Regions from separate parts of the Homo sapiens genome. Here all the other regions are linked to region 4. The links come from fine-mapping of genetic effects on gene expression. A gene starts in region 4. Each other region holds a variant in brackets. All regions are shown on one strand. Distances are between the middles of the regions. Region 1 overlaps GSR (glutathione-disulfide reductase). Region 2 overlaps RBPMS (RNA binding protein, mRNA processing factor). Region 3 overlaps GSR (glutathione-disulfide reductase). Region 4 holds the start of GSR (glutathione-disulfide reductase).

Evidence for each region. PIP is the estimated chance that this variant, and not a neighbour inherited with it, causes the effect. A credible set is the group of variants that fine-mapping cannot tell apart.
Region 1: its variant is the best candidate, but not a certain one, in a credible set for the expression of GSR in CD8 T cells (CEDAR, PIP 0.79).
Region 2: its variant is the best candidate, but not a certain one, in a credible set for the expression of GSR in whole blood (TOPMed, PIP 0.87).
Region 3: its variant is the best candidate, but not a certain one, in a credible set for the expression of GSR in hypothalamus (GTEx, PIP 0.55).

The regions. Positions count from the first base shown.
Region 1 is chr8:30,676,234-30,678,918 of GRCh38, reverse strand. It overlaps GSR (glutathione-disulfide reductase), which reads left to right. Exons shown (of 13, transcript NM_000637.5): 13 at 1-853. Among named protein-coding and RNA genes, the nearest start is that of GTF2E2, 19 kb to the right of the region's middle. The variant G/TTTG (reference allele first, on the strand shown) is at 1,155.
Region 2 is chr8:30,490,850-30,493,534 of GRCh38, reverse strand. All of the region lies in intron 4 of RBPMS (RNA binding protein, mRNA processing factor), which reads right to left. Among named protein-coding and RNA genes, the nearest start is that of RBPMS-AS1, 110 kb to the right of the region's middle. The variant T/C (reference allele first, on the strand shown) is at 1,191.
Region 3 is chr8:30,697,622-30,700,306 of GRCh38, reverse strand. GSR (glutathione-disulfide reductase) reads left to right here. Exons shown (of 13, transcript NM_000637.5): 6 at 172-226. Among named protein-coding and RNA genes, the nearest start is that of GSR, 29 kb to the left of the region's middle. The variant A/GGA (reference allele first, on the strand shown) is at 1,443.
Region 4 is chr8:30,726,237-30,728,921 of GRCh38, reverse strand. GSR (glutathione-disulfide reductase) reads left to right here and starts at 1,076. Exons shown (of 13, transcript NM_000637.5): 1 at 1,076-1,392. The coding sequence starts at 1,087. RefSeq lists silencers at 816-905, 976-1,415 and an enhancer at 1,491-2,178.

The sequences.
Region 1 (2,685 bases), 50 kb after region 4:
CTCGGCCTCCTGAGGTGCTGAGATTACAGGCGTGAGCCACTGTGCCAGCTTGCTAATTTTCACAGAAGTTGATGGCAATTCTTCACATGTAAACAGTGCCAGTGCACAGAACCTTTATATATTTTTTGAAGCCAGTACTGTGCTCTGCATATAACAAAGCTGCTTCAAGGATGAGACCTTTTTCTAAAAGCATGTAATGTGAGAAGCCGGCCTGCCTTATTTTCTTTTTTCTTTTTTAATGATTAAAAATAGTTTGTGGCAAGGCACGGTGGCTCAGGCCTGTAATTCTAGCACTTTGGGAGGCCGAGGCAGGAGGATTACTTGAGCCTACAAGTTTGAGGCCAGCATGCACAGCATAGCAAGACTGCATCTCTACAGAGAGTAAAAAAAATTACCCGAGTGTGGTGATGTGCATCTGTAATCTCAGCTACTTGGGAGGCTGAGGTGAGAGGATCACTTGAGCTTGGGTGAGGTGAGGCTGCAGTGAGTCCTGATCATGCTGCTGCACTCAATCTTGGACAACAGAGCAAGACCCTGTCTCAAAAAAAAAAAAAAAAAATATATATATATATATATATTATTTTTATGAGGTGAAGTGCATCAAACTTGGGAAAGATTTGAGGAGGCTGGGAACCTCCTGGAAAACCACTCCTTGAAGAAAGATATGAGAGACATTTAGAAGTGATTCCTGCTTTCAGAAGGAGGTGGATTCAAATACATCAAAAGTCCCTTCCTCTGCTAAGTGTTTATAGTTCAATGAATAATTTCAATATTTGTATGTGTTCTTGTCATTTTATTTTTTTCTGAAAAACTTCCAAAAATTTGAAAATAAAATTACAGCCTTTTCTTCTTATAAAATTTGTTACTGTGAGCTTTAATTGGTACACAGGAAATTGGTTTATTTTCTAAGGATATTTCACATTGGAGAATCAGTTGCCTGTGCTTACGGGGGTGAAAAGAGAGTTCTCGTATAAAAATAAAGATCGAAGGTATAAAAGAAACATTTAGCAGATTAATGATTGAGTTGGAAGAAAAGCCTAGAAATCACTTAGGTCTTTAACACTTTATTTCTATTAGGTTTTACCAGCTAGTTAAATTTTTCCAGGATTTTCATTAGTCATCCAGTGTTACTGAATACTTTTTTTTTTTTTTTT[G/TTTG]AGACAGGGTCTAGCTTTGTCGCCAGGCTGGGGTGCAGTGGTGTGATCTCAGGTCACTGCAGCCTCCCGGGGTCAAGCAGTTCTCCTGCCTCAGCCTCCTGAGTAGCTGGGATCACAGGCACGCGCCACCACACCCAGCTAATTTTTGTATTTTTAGTAGAGATGGGGTTTCACCATGTTGGCCAGGATGGTCTTGATCTGTTGACCTCGTGATCTGCCCGCCTTGGCCTCCCAAAGTGCTGGGATTACAGGCGTGAGCCACTGCACTGGACCCACTGAATTCTTTACTGTGTGTTCTGTTAAGCTTTTACTGACTGTCTTTCTGGTTAGTGATGGCCAGTTACTGAACTGACTTTTTTTTTTTTTTTTGAAACCAAGCCTGGCTCTGTTGCCTAGGCTGGAGTACAGTGGCACGATCTCGGCTCACTGCAGCCTCTGCCTCCCGGGGTCAAGCGATTCTCCTGCCTCAGCCTCCTGAGTAGCTGAGACTACAGGTGCACACCACCACACCTGGCTAATTCTTGTACTTTTAGTAGAGATGGGTTTTCACCGTGTTGGCCAGGCTGGTCTTGAACTCCTGACCTTAGAAGTAATCTGCCCACCTCGGCCTCCCAAAGTGCTGAGATTACAGGCGTGAGCCACCACATCCGGCCTGCACTGACTTCTTAAGTAGGCCCAATGTCAATGAAAGAAAAATATTGTATTAGCAAGGAAGTTATATGTATTGTGGTGGGACAAGAAAATAGGATCCCCAAACTTGGGCATGGACTAATGTAGGCACTTCTCCCCTCTTCCCCTAGCCTAAAAGACAGTGGACCAAGGTTCTAGGCTTCATTCTGCTGGTGGATTTCTCACTGCACAGGCCCCAGCCTTGAGGTGTGCCTCTGTCAGGGAAATGGGAGGCCCTAGTAGCCACATCTATTTTAACATCATGTGTTCTTAATCTCATATTTATCCTGCCTGTGTGCTGGTTCCATAGTAAACCAACAAGAAAGTACAGTACCCTTATCTGAGTTCCTGTCTGCATTCTCATCGGTCCTTGAACTGGCCCAGCCCTTGAGGTGTTGTGGCTTAACAGCCTCTATTACTGAAAGTGCCAAGAAATATATAGCAGCTCACACCTATAATCCCAGCACTTTGGGAGGCCAAGACAGGTGGATCACCTGAGGTCAGGGGTTCGAGACCAGCCTGGCCAACATGATGAAACCCCATCTCTACTAAAAATACAAAAATTAGCTAGGCGTGGTGGCTGGCATCTGTAATCCCAGCTACTCAGGAGGCTGAGATAGGAGAATCGCTTGAACCTAGGAGGCACAGGTCACAGTGAGCCAAGATGGCACCACTGCACTCCAGCCCAGGCAATAGTGTGAGACTCCATCTCAAAAAAAAAAAAAAAAATGCTGGGCGCGGTGGCTCACACCTGCAATCCCAGCACTTTGGGAGGTCGAGGTGGGCAGATCACGAAGTCATGAGATCGAGACCATCCTGGCTAACATGGTGAAACCCTGTCTCTACTAAAAATACAAAAAAA
Region 2 (2,685 bases), 240 kb after region 4:
AGGTGAACAGAAGGTAAAGCAGCAGGTCAACTGCTCTGGTAGGCATAAAAACATCCCTTAGAATCCTTAATGCACAAACACCAAACGTGGCTGGTGCTGCCAGTAGTCCCTTTCATTGCAGAGTCCTTACTGCCTTTTCCTCTCCTGTCTCACTGTAAGGATAATGAATAAACCCATTGGCATACATTCTTTCCCCTTTGCATCAATGTCTTTTTCTCCTGCTACCTGCTAAATGAAGGCACTCAAAATGAAAGCTTAAAGGAAGCAGATCCTAGGCAATAGCTCTCAATTCAGTTAAATTTTCAACTCTGATAGAGACCTTGGGGTGATTTGGGGAAAACCTATAAACAAATTTTTAATGGTCCATATTGGCTTAATGTTGGCCCAAGACATTCCAGTCTGATGTCGGTCACTGTCAAGTGACACCAAAGAAACTTCAGAATTTTAATGGCCAACTTCACTGACTTGGGAAATCAACAGTGGGTTTGCCTCAACAAAGCACGTCCTTGTATTTGACTAAAGCCTTATGGGTGTCACATCAAAAATTTCAGAAATGTGGCATAGAAACCATGCCCTGTCAATGTGAACATGTAAATGATTTCCCGATTATGTGATTCATCTCTGTAAAGCTCAGATCATAGGCTTAAATCAGTGAATTTGGCACCAAAAAGGAAAAAAAGAGTAAGAAAAAAAGAAAACAACAATAAAATGGACAAAAGAAATCACAACCTTATTCTTAAAGAAGCCAGTCTATATTACTGAAACAGGCCAGTCTAGAAAATACACACCCCTTTGGTTACATAGTGAATCCAGTGAAAAAGTAGGGGGGTTTATGTGCAAATTCATTATCAATAACAACTTTAAAAGTAGCTTGTATTTTTTTTTCCTAGTGATTGCAAATTGAGAGAATCACTTTCATTCATAAGGGCCACATATGTGCCCATACAGCTTCTGCCAAGTACAAAACCCAGGATTAAACTTGGAAGGGATGGGTTTTGAAATACTTACTAATTTCATATCCAATTAGCAGATGACGATCTAGATCCTTTAAAGATAAAAGGGGTATTTTTTTTTTAAGTCAAAGGGTTACTGGTGTTGACAAGCGTGGTGTCAGCTCTTTAAAGAAAGGACTAATTATACATAATTACACATTAATCTTCTAATTACTGAAAAGGAGATCAACCTACTTT[T/C]GCATCTAATACATATTATGCACTTATCAGGCAAAATGAGACAATGGATGCATGCATGTGTGAAAGTGCTTTATGCACTCAAAGATAAGTTGAATAATTAACACTGTGTAATATAAAAAGTCTCAGAGAATTATTTTAAAAAACAAGTGTGTCGGCTGGGCGCAGTGGCTCACACCTGTAATGTCAGCACTTTGGGAGGCCGGGGCAGGTGGATCACCTGAGGTCAGGAGTTCGAGACCAGCCTGACAACCATGGTGAAACCCTATCTCTAATAAAAATACAAAAATTAGCCAGACGTGGTGCTGCACGCCTGTAATCCCAGCTACTCAGGAGGCTGAGGCAGAAGAATTGCCTGAATCGTGGAGGCCGGAGATTGCAGTGAGCCGAGATTGTGCCATTGCACTCCAGCCTGGGCGACAAGAGCGAAACTCCATTGGGGGAGGGGTGGGGGTGTCTGTGTCTACATGGAAAAGCACATGAAGAATAAGTCCTACTTGTGAGGTAGGCAGGCTAAGAGAATGCATTTAACGAGCTCTTCTTTTAGCTTCACCTTAAGTGCTTGTTAGGTCATTTGAGGACCTATCTTAACTTTCTGTATATGTTTTAAGGATCGTTCTGCAAAGTTTACTTTGAGCTTTTATTAGTGGCTGGTGCAGAAGAAAAAAAGAGGTAGGAGGAGGAGAGAAAACAGTACTGACATAAACAAACTCTACAATTGAAAAAAAACAGTTGCCTAAACTTTCCAAAACCATTTTGAGAAGATTTCTATTTAAAGATCAGACATAGACCGCAATAGGCCTCCAAGTATATTTTCACAATCCTGTTTCTGCTCTCCAGTATTTTAGCAATCAGCCCCCCAGCCCCCAACAGGATCCAGTGAAACCTCCCACCCTGTGTGTGCCCAACCAAGTTTAGGTAATGTTAATGAAATGAAATACCAAGAGCAAGTAGAAAACGTGCATTTTCTTGTTTTCTTCCCCCTCCCCCAAAGATAATCACTATCTTGATCTAGCTACTAATTTTCAAACTGTACAACTTGACAACAAATTTTTAGAAAGAAAAAGCTGTAGTACATTTAAAAAATACAAATAATTTTATAAGTCAATGGTTTTATATCCTTTATTTCACTAAGGATAAAAATGAGCCATTTATACCAATACATTATTTACTGGTCCTCAACATCATTTACTAATACCATATACTAAATTAATCAATAGGGTTGGGGGAGATGTCACTGATGAATTTCATAAAAGTACAGAAATAAGCAAAGTGGGTAAATTTGCTCCTTAACCCTATTTTTTAAAACACCTCTAACACACACCATCAAATGGCTTGCAACCTCCTTCCAACCAAGAACTTGGGGCTTAAGGCACAAGTTAGTTGAAAAGAATGTAAACAGTCAAGTCCAAACTTAGGAAGTTCACTGCAAAGTACTTCCTGTGCTGCACAGGGAGCCAAAACAAAGTGAGGCAAAACCTATCTCGCCACTACACAA
Region 3 (2,685 bases), 29 kb after region 4:
AACTCAGGGAGGATTTGGTTGGCAGCTTTCCAAGCAGAGACTTTAACAAAACTTGTCAAAACGGAGACTATGTTGGCTGTGAAAGTGTTTGGTTTTTGGCATAAAATGTTGTGATTACTTTGCAAGAGAAAGAGCAGTCTTGTGTGATCTATGTTGCCTTTTTCTACATAGGTGCCAGCTTAGGAATAACCAGCGATGGATTTTTTCAGCTGGAAGAATTGCCCGGGTAAGCCAACCTGACCTGACCTCAGTGACTCATTCTTCCTTACTGTCTCCTGGTAACTTTTCTTCGTCTTCTCCTCCCAAGCATTTAATGTAGGCCTTTCCTGAATTCCCTCCTCTTACAGCTTCTCTTTTCATGACCTTGTATATCTCATTCCTAGAACTCCTCAGTAGATCCCTCAAATCTTTCATGCTTTCAATCAGAGGCCAAAGTCAAATGCAGGGTAATTTGAAGACTGCATAGCAAAGTCCTAAAACTGTCTTCTTTCTTCAACTTAATACAGCATCAATTAAGAATGTGTCTAAAGTAGCTTGTATTTTAGAATAGAATAGCTGGTTTTGGCCAGATGTGGTGGCTCATGGCTGTAATCCTAGCACTTTGGGAGGCTGAAGCGGGCAGATCACCTGAGGTCAGGAGCTCGAGACCAGCCTGGCCAACATGGTGAAACCCTGTCTCTACTAAAACTATGGAAATTAGCTGGGTGTGGTGGTGTGGGCCTGTAGTCTCAGCTACTCGGGAAGCTGAGGCAGGAGAATCACTTGAATTCTCAAGGCGGAGTTGCAGTGAGACAAGATCACACCAAGAAAGAAAGAAAGAGAGAGAGAGTGCCACCACGCCCCGCTAATTTTGTATTTTTAGTAGAGGTGGGTTTTCTCCATGTTGGTCAGGCTGGTCTCAAACTCCTGACCTCAGGTGATCCGCCCGCCTCAGCCTCCCAAAGTGCTGGAATTACAGATGTGAGCCACCACACCTGGCCAGATTTTCTTTTAATGAACAAACATTTTTTTTTTTAGAGACAGGGTCTTCTTCCATCGCCCAGGCAGGAGTGCAGTGGTGCCATCATGGCTTGTGGTAGCCTTGAGCTCTTGGGCTCAAGCAATCCTTTCACCTCAGCCTCCCGAGTAGCTGGGACTACAAACGTGCACCACCATACCTGGTTAACTTTTTAATTTAAATTTTTGTAGAGATGGGGTCTCGTTCTGTTGTCCAGGCTGGTCTAGAATTCCTGGCCTCAAGCAATCCTCCCACCTTGGCCTCTCAAAGCAGTAGGAATACAAGCATGGGCCACCGTGCTGAATGGATTTAGATTCATAGAGGGGCAAAAAGATCATGAGGAAGTTTGTTTCTCTGATTTGAAGTTGCTGTACATTGCAGGCTTTCTAGTTTAGAGGGATGCTCCTGTCACTTGTGAGAAGAGGTGATGCCTGGAAACAGGTGG[A/GGA]GGGACCCAATGTGTTGGCGCAGGGACTGGCCTTCATTCATCTTCTGAGTGGCACTCACTGTGGAGTTTGCATTGCTCAACTCTTCTGCTCCCTCAGGGGCTGTGCTAATCCAGTTTGAGGTCCTAATCCTATGCTTTTAGAAGGGCTTTTAGGGAGAGTGACTCATAGTCCATGAGCCTATCTTCACTTTGATTCACCCAGAGTCATGGACAGTTCAGACAGCACGAGGCAGTTCAGAAAGGACCAGGGAGCTGCTTTGCAGTTCCATAGGATGGTGAAAATGTCCCTTGAAGATACCTCAGACCAGGCAGGCTTCTGACTTGGAGGAGTTCTAAGAAAACCATACAATCTTTTTTGGTTTGCTATCAGGTCGCAGAAATGTGTTAGAGAACAGCCTTCCTTCCCTGTGATCCACCCTGCATTGTTTGATTTTAGGGTTGAGTGACATGACATATGTGAGGATGTAGTGAGACATACAGTCATGACTCATTATGTTTGGATAATGTAATTTCATTCCGGACTCACCCTCAAAGAAGTTTCATTATAAATAGCTGTTCATTAGCAATTTTAAATATTTACATTTATGCATGTCATCAACAAAAGGCTCTGAAACACAAGAAAATGAATTTACGATTGATACGTGATTCTTCAAGTCTACTTTATCTTTGTTACGGTGTTGGTGAATAAGTAATAACTGGGCAAGTACATAAATAATGTAGGGAAGATAGCATGATTTAGTTTTTGCACTGAGGGGGCTTCTGTTTGGATGGAGCATGAACCTTGTGGAATACTGTGCATGAGTAGTCCTGGGGCTGCAACGAGGTAAAGAGAAATCTTTTAGGGATTCAGCCGCCTGAAAGATCAGTTCCAGAAGCCAGGCACAGTGGCTTATGCCTGTAATCTCAGCACTTTGGGAGGCCTGAGGCGAGCGAATTTCTTGAGCCCAGGAGTTTGAAACCAGCCTAGGCAACACAGCACAACCCGATCTCTGCAAAAAAAATACAAAAATTAGCTGGGTGTGTTGGCACATGCTGGTAGTCTTGGCTACTTGGGAGGCTCAGGCCGGAGGATCACTTGAGCCTAGGAGTTCGAGACCAGCCTGGGCAACATAGGGAGATATTGTCTCTGCACAGAGTTTTTTCCTCTCTGAAGAAATGAGGCTAAAGAGCTTTAAAAACAATGAAAAATACATTTCCCTTCTGTGACGGGATATTAGGGATTTTTCTTTTCTTTTGAGATAGG
Region 4 (2,685 bases):
GTCTACGTGAAAAAATCATAATAGATCAAGTAAGCGTGGGAAACGTGACTGGGGGCTATATACATCAGCTAACAGAACAAAAAGTTTTACAGTGCTTTCTCATACAATGTCTGGAATTTACAGATAACACCAATAGTTTTGGTCAGGGGTTAATAATATTATTATTATCTTAGCCACCAGGGCCAGGTGGTGGTGCCAAGGTCGTCTAGCTATTTATCTTACTTCTGTTTCTTTCCAACTTTTTGCTTTCTCCCTTTTCTCCTGTCTTATAAACTAGGGAAAAGGGGAGGTTGGGGAGAAACTGAGAAGGACAACAGGAGAAGTGGTGACCTCATACCATAATCCTAGCATTTTGGGAGGCCGAGGTGAGAGAATCGCTTGAGGCCAAGAGTTCCCTACCAGTCCTGGTAACATAGTGAGACCCTATTTCTAAAAAAAAAATAAAAATAATAAAAAAAATAAAAAAAAAAATTAAATAAATAAATAAATAAATTAGCTGGGCGCTGTGGCGGGCACCTGTAGTTCCCAGCTACCGGGAAGGCTGAGGAGGGAGGATCGCTGCTTGAGCACAGTAGGTGGAGGCTGCAGTGAGCAGAGATCGCATCACTGCACCCCTGCCTGGGGGAGAGTGAGACCCAGTCTCAAAGAAAAAGCAAGAACAAACAAAAGTGGTCTCTGGAACAAACCTGGACAAACAACCCTTCGAATAGAGGCAAATTTCTCTTCCTGGAGAAGCCGTGCCACTGGCAACTCCCCAGGGGGCCAGCTCGGGAAAAGCCAGCTGAAACGAGAGGACGTTCACCGTTCCTCGCCTCGATCCACCGGACTTCAGAAGGCTACACGCGGCAGGCGCCGCTCGGGATCCAGGGGCCGGGGTGAGAACGGAGGCGGAGAAACCCCTCAGGCTCCGCCACCGGGGCGGGGAACTGGGAGGCGGCCCCGCCTCTGGGCATCCTCCTGGGTCTTGCCTAGCGGCGGGCGCATGCTTAGTCACCGTGAGGCTGCGCTTGCCCGGGGCCCGCGCCCCCCTACCCCGGGGACCGCCCCCGGGCCGCCCGCCCCACTTGGCGCGCCACTTCCGCGTGCATGGCCCTGCTGCCCCGAGCCCTGAGCGCCGGCGCGGGACCGAGCTGGCGGCGGGCGGCGCGCGCCTTCCGAGGCTTCCTGCTGCTTCTGCCCGAGCCCGCGGCCCTCACGCGCGCCCTCTCCCGTGCCATGGCCTGCAGGCAGGAGCCGCAGCCGCAGGGCCCGCCGCCCGCTGCTGGCGCCGTGGCCTCCTATGACTACCTGGTGATCGGGGGCGGCTCGGGCGGGCTGGCCAGCGCGCGCAGGGCGGCCGAGCTGGGTGCCAGGGCCGCCGTGGTGGAGAGCCACAAGCTGGGTGGCACTTGCGTGAGTACCGCCGGTTTGTTCGGGCGGGGGGCGCCTCTTTGTCTCGGTCTTTCGGGGGACAGCCTGTGCTCGTTCCTATGGCGATCCTGTCCCCCGGCGCTGGGCTTTCCTCTTTTCCACCCCCGCAACTCCCCATTCCGAAGCCAGGAACCCAGCAGGTGGAGGAGAGAGAGGCGTCCGGGGGCTTCTCTGCGGCCCGCAAAGCCGAGCCAGCGTCTGCTTCCGCACGGATGCGATATTGACCAGGGCCGGGGCGGGTTAGATTAACCTTCCTCCATCCTCACTTGTCCAAGTGGGAGAGGATTGGATTCTGTTCTTGACCGCGTGAAACACAAAACTGCATCTGGGAACATTGCTGGTGGCCTGTGTGTAGGGACGAGGGTGACGGTGCCATAGATCCTGGTTCTTGAAAAATGTAGATCCTGGTTCTCCCGTTTCAAGGGCAGAATGATTTATAGCGGTTGTTGTCAACCTTGGCTACACATTCGAATCACCTGAGGGTGCCTGGATTCCCGACTTAATTGGTCTGAGGTGCACTTGGGCTTTGGGATGTTTCCCGACTTAATTGGTCTGAAGTGCAGCCTGGGCTTTGGGATTTTCGGGTGATCTGAATTGCAGCCAAGGCGACCTTGAGTAGGTGAGTTCTCAGAGCTTTTGTTTTGTCTTGGTTTTATGTGGATTGCAAAACTAAAAACAGAGGGATGTAAATCCTGAGATTTACAAAATTCATAATTTTTGAAAATAAGGGTTTTTGTTTGTGTTTGTTTTTTGAGACAGGGTCTTGCCCTGTCACCTAGGCTAGAGTGCAGTGGCCATCATAGCTCACTGCAGCCTCGAACTCCCGGGCTCAAGGGATCCTCTCACCTTGGCCTCCTGAGTAGCTGGAACTACAGGGGGCTAATCACCACGCCTAGTTAATTATTATTATTTTTTGTAGAGATGGGGGTCTCGCTATGTTGCCCTTGCTGATTTCAACCTCTTGGACTCAACCGATCTTCCCGCCTCAGCCTCCCAAAGTGCTGGGATTACAAGCCTGAGCCACTGCACTCATTCTAAAAATAAATGTTGTTTCCAAGTTATTGGTGTGCCCGCCCTTTTCTATCACAAGATTTGGGTGTTGACGATTAAAATGCTGTATCCAAGAGGAACCTGGGATTTGGGATAGGTTCTCTAAATTCCTTTGGAGATGAATATTTAAATTATGTCAAATTGGGAGCTCTTTAAGGACAGGGATGGGCTTCTGTGTTTGTGTGTCTCTTATCACCTTAAAATCCCTTGCTCAATAAGCACTTG